Regions from separate parts of the Homo sapiens genome. Here region 2 is linked to region 1. Evidence: fine-mapped expression QTL. Tissue or cell type: whole blood. Region 1 holds a variant in brackets; the other region holds the start of a gene. All regions are shown on one strand. Distances are between the middles of the regions.

Region 1 (2,681 bases):
GATCTCGATGTCCAAGGCCAGCTTCACACTCATGAGCTCCTGGTACTCACGCAGCATTCGTGCCAGCTCCTCCTTGGCCTGCTGCAGGGCAGCCTCCAGCTCTACGCGCTTGCTGTGGGCATCTTTAAGGGCATTCTCACCTCGCTGCTCTGCATCAGCCACGGATACCTGAAGAGTCTGGCACTATTGACAAAGGCATTAGATAGGTGGTCAGCAGTGCCCTGCCTTCAAGGCCTCTACACCTGTCCCCTCCCCTGGTCCAGCTTTCCTTGGGTTAGGATGTCAAGATTCTATCTGTTCTGCCCACTTTCCCTGAGACTTATGCATCTCATTCACTCCAGCCATAGCCCACCAATGCCTCCACCAGACTGATTAAATAAAAATGAGCAAAAACCCATGAAGAAGAGCCAAGAAACCTATGCACAGGAGCGTCATGGTGTGCCAACTAGGATATTGCTGAAAAAATCTGGGTATGCCTTGCACAAAGAGCTATGAATTCCCAGCAACAAGCTCAGGGTCTTCTGGCCTGATGCTTTATCTGCTTGTCCACTCTGGAGATGTCTGCCTGAGGCCCCTGGCCTTGTGCTCCATCTGGAAGGGAGTGACACCCACCTGCTTCTTGATGTTCTCGATCTCTGCCCGCAGCCTCTGGATCATCCTGTTGAGCTCTGCAATTTCACTCTTGGTGTTCTTCAGGTTGTCACCATGTTGGTCAACCGAGATCTGGAGCTGCTGGACCTAAGACTCAAGAAGACACAGAGAACCAGGTGTTAGGGGCATTTGGGTAGGGTCCATTCTCAAGTGAACTCAGTGAGAATTGCCACAGGTGGCAAGAATAGCACCAAATGTCAAGTAGTTTCAAATCAGACCAGGACCAACGATGCCTGGGAGAGTCTGTTCATATCTGACTTCTATTGGGCTTGAGCTAATGATCACCTGTTCACAGACATCAAAAGCAGAGCCCCAGAGCCAGCCCCATCTCCTGAGAGATCCATACCACCCACCTTGGTCTGGTACAGGGCTTCAGCCTCAGCCTTGCTCCTCTGGGCAATCTCCTCGTACTGGGCACGGACCTCGGCAATAATGCTGTCCAGGTCCAGGTTGCGGTTGTTGTCCATGGAAAGGACCACGGACGTGTCGCTGACATGGGTCTGCATCTGGGACAGCTCCTGCAGGGCAAATGTCTCACATCAGCCCCCCCAGGAAAGCCTTCACTGACCTGATACAGGCTCAAGTAGGAGCAGAGCTGGCATTCACAATGTGTAGGAAGGGGAGAGACAGGTAAAGTTCTAAGGAGAAATCAAGTGGTTGTGACAGTTCAGGATGGAAGAGCAATGCTTCTAGTCTTTACTGGTCCCCAGGAACCATAAGCCACTCTAATGCAGTGAGTGCCGGTGTGTTGGAATGGAAGGGAAGGGAATGGATCCATTTCACCAGAAAAAAAATGCTAGACAGCAATGAATTCTATTCCAAGCACTCTTTAGATCTAATCACCCCGTCTAAGACCAAGACCACATCTGGTTCTAAGAATCTCCCAGTTGAATTTCCCACTT[C/T]AAACCTTTCTATGCATGACCTTGATGAGAACCCACTGCCCTAAAATAAGGGAGCTGGAGTCCTTTCAAAAAACTGTGAATCCCAACCAGCAGCGTCACAGATGGGGGATTCCCTTTCCCTGGATGGAGGGGAGGATGGAGCCCTCACCGCATCATAGAGGACCTTCAGGAAGTTGATCTCGTCATTAAGACTGTCCACCTTGGCCTCCAACTCCACCTTGTTCAGGTAGGCAGCATCCACGTCCTGCAGAGGAGTAAGGAGGATAAGAGATGAGGAGCAGGAATGCCAGTAGGAGGACGGGTTACTAAGTGACACCGACAGGTGTTCTCAGCAGCATTTAGGAAAGACTACTCAGCAGCAGGGGAGCTGGTGGGAGACCAATTATTTTATATATTCTTCCCTAGAGCCACCTGAAGACATGGAAGTTGATTATCCAAATAGGCTATTCTAACAGTATGGAGATCTCTCAAAGAACTAAAAATAGAACTACCATTGGATCCAGCAATCCCAGTGCTGGAATTCCACTCAAAGGAAAAGAAATCATTGTAACAAAAGGATACCTGCACTCATGTTTATCGCAGCACAATTCACAATAGCAAAGATACCAAATCAACCTAAGTGTCCATCAACAGATGATTGGATAAAGAAAATATGATACATATACACAATAGAATACTACTCAGCCATAAAAAGAGAATGAAATTATGTCTTTTTGCAGCAATGTGGATGGAACTGGAGGCCATTATCTTAAGTGAAACAACTCAGGCACAGAAAGACAAATAACACATGTCCTCACTTATAAGTGGGAGCTAAATCATGTGTACATGTGGACATAGAGCATGGAATGATAGACAATGGAGACTTGAAAAAGGGAGGGCTGGGAGGGGCTGGATAATGAGAAATTACTTATTGGATATAATGTATGTTATCCCAGCAATGGATACTCTAAAAGCCCTGACTTCACCACAACACAAACTATCCACGTAACAAAATTACACTTGTACCCCATGAATTTATAAAAATAAAAATCAGCTGGGTGCGGTGGCTCACAACTGTAACCCCAGCACTTTGGGAGGCTGAGGCAGGCGGATGACCTGAGGTCAGGAGTTTGAGACCAGCCTGACCAA
Region 2 (2,681 bases), 270 kb after region 1:
AGACCAGCCTGGGCAACGTAGTGAGACCTCATCTCTACTAAAAATTAAAACAATGAGCCAGGTGTGGCAGCATGCACCTGTAGTCCCAGCTACTAAGGAGACTGAAGATGGCTTGAGTCTGGCAGGTCAAGGCTGCAGTCAGTTCTGATTGTGCCACTACATTCCAGCCTGGCTGACAGAGCAAGACCCTGTCTCAAAAAAAAAAGAAAAAAAAATGCCATGATCCTGGGCCTGGTGGCTCACGTCTGTGATCCCAGCACTTTGGGAGGCCGAAGTGGGAGGATCACAAGGTCAGAAGTTGAAGACCAGCCTGACCAACATGGTGAAACCCCATCTCTACTAAAAATACAAACAAATTAGCCAGGCGTGGTGGTGCGCACCTGTAATCCCAGCTACTCAGGAGGCTGAGGCAAGAGAATTGCTTGAACCTGGGAGGTGGAGTTTGCAGTGAGCCGAGATCGTCCCACTGCACTCCAGCCTGGGTGACAGAAACTCCATCTCAAAAAAAAAAAAAAAAGCCACGATCTTAATCAGTTCCTAAAGATCATTCCAGCTGCTGGTTGGAGAACTGATCACAAGAGGATCAAGAACAGATGTGGGCAAACAATTCAGACGTTGTTGCAGCAGTTCACATGAGAAATGACATCCACTAAGTCGGTAGCAGCGCCGATGGATGGGGGTGGGATGATCCAGGTATTTAAACAACCATCAGTCCCTACATATAAATGAATGAATGATTTTTCCTGGGAGCCAAAAGTGAGAAAGAGGTGAAGTACTCTTCTCTTCCCATTCCCTAAACACTGGGACAGGGGTTTTCTTGAGGCCTGACATTGCCTTGCACACGGTAGGTGCTTAGTAAGCCTTGGCTGGGCTGAATTTGATCCCAATACGCAAATTACGACTCTTATGCAGTAGCTACAACCCACCACGTGGCCCAGAAGAGTAGGCACCTGTGGGACAGACAGCCCTAAGATTCCACTCCCGGGCACTCAGCCAGGACTCAACCCCAGGTAGATGCTGGTTGCGCAGACCCCACAGTCTTGGCACCGGCGAGTGGCGGCCCTACTGGGCCCTGTCTCCTCCCCGGGCACGGCCTGATCACTGAGATGAGACCCGGGAGCAGCCGGGCCCCAGCCCATCCGTGTGCCTACGCCCAGTCTCCCCAGGCCCTGCACTGGGCCGAGGGTGCAGCAACAGAAGAAGCCCAGTGACCAGAGCGCAGGGCCCCGCCCCTGGCCCCAGAGCCCCCGCCCAGGACCCCCGCCTTCCGCTTCAGGCTCCGGGGAGATACGAGGCCTCCGGGACCCCGCCCCCGATCCCCGCCTACCGGGGCCGCCGCGTCCTCCTCATCCATAGGCCTCTCAGCTCCGCACACAAGCTCTTCGGCCGCCGCCACCACACACATCCGGGTCCCCGCCTTTCCTTCACTCCTAGAGGCCCGCCCCGTCCCCCATCTAAGCCAATCAGCAACGGCCTCTGACGACGGGCACCTGCAGGAGCCAATCGGAAGGCGCAGGCAGGGTGTGGGGCGCGGCCCGGTGCCCTGGGTACCCAGCTCAGGGCCCCGGTCTGGTCAACCCGGCTGTTGCTGGGGTGAGCGAAGGCGACGTGGCAGCGCGGACGCTGCTGGGTGCCTGGGCGCCGCTGAGGCGGACAGGGGGCGGCTCTTGAGCGGCGCCGGGGAGACGGGACGGGCGGAGAAGGTGGCCACGCTCGCACAAACGTTGCGAGTATTACTTGAGCCCTCCTTCCGCGCTGGACTGAAATAAAAGCTTTACCGGAATGTCCATTTAATCCACGGTGCAGCCTTATGAAATAAATCTTATCTCCTTTTTACGGATGGGCCGAAGGCTGGCCTCGATAGCCTGCGCGCTTAACTGTTATGCTGTGTACCCTCCCGAGCTCTGTTTCATGGCACCGCTCGCTCATTATTGGCAAGAACATTCCATTCCAGGAGGAGAGAACTGGGGATGCAGAAGGCACAGTGGCACGAAGCGGCATTCTGTGGAGGAACACAGGGCTTTGGTAGGCTGAAGGAAAGTTAGACTGGGGTTAGAATGTGAAGGGACGAAGACACGAATATTTATTGAACACCTACTAGGGAGTGCCTACCTGCCATTCTGGGGGGTTGGACTCCTAGATGAGGACTTCCTTGCTCCCTTCCCATCACCATATCTCTCTCTTCTGGACGGAAAAGATTCCTCTCCTCTGTAGCACCTCATTTATAATACTTTTTTTTTTGAGACGGAGTCTCACTCTGTCGCCCAGGCTGGAGTGCAGTGGCGCGATCTCGGCTCACTGCAAGCTCTGCCTCCTGGGTTCACGCCATTCTCCTGCCTCAGCCTCCCAAGTAGCTGGGACTACAGGCGCCCGCCACCACGCCAAGCTAATTTTTTTTGTATTTTTGGTAGAGACGGGGTTTCACCGTGTTAGCCAGGATGGTCTCGATCTCCTGACCTCTTGATCCGCCCACCTCGGCCTCCCAAAGTGTTGGGATTACAGGCGTGAGCCACCGCCCCCCGCCATTTATAACACTTATTACCGTCTTGCTTTCGTTATTGGAGTTACTTGTGTGTGTAGACCCGTCTCTGCTAGACTGTGAGCTCCTTCAGACCCCAGACTATTCTATTCTTATCACACTAGGTACTCTAACGTGTTGAGTGCCAGGAAAGCCATCAGCT

The links. PIP is the estimated chance that this variant, and not a neighbour inherited with it, causes the effect.
Region 2: SPRYD3 starts here. The variant in region 1 is fine-mapped to the expression of SPRYD3 in whole blood (TOPMed, PIP above 0.99). The same link has a PIP of 0.9 or more in lung, sigmoid colon and stomach.

Annotation. Positions count from the first base shown.
Region 1 is chr12:52,807,682-52,810,362 of GRCh38, forward strand. KRT4 (keratin 4) reads right to left here. Exons shown (of 9, transcript NM_002272.4): 4 at 1,702-1,797; 5 at 1,005-1,169; 6 at 613-738; 7 at 1-183. Among named protein-coding and RNA genes, the nearest start is that of KRT4, 5.1 kb to the right of the region's middle. The variant C/T (reference allele first, on the strand shown) is at 1,554.
Region 2 is chr12:53,077,984-53,080,664 of GRCh38, forward strand. It overlaps SPRYD3 (SPRY domain containing 3), which reads right to left and starts at 1,407. Exons shown (of 11, transcript NM_032840.3): 1 at 1,328-1,407. The coding sequence starts at 1,350. RefSeq lists a silencer at 1,108-1,387.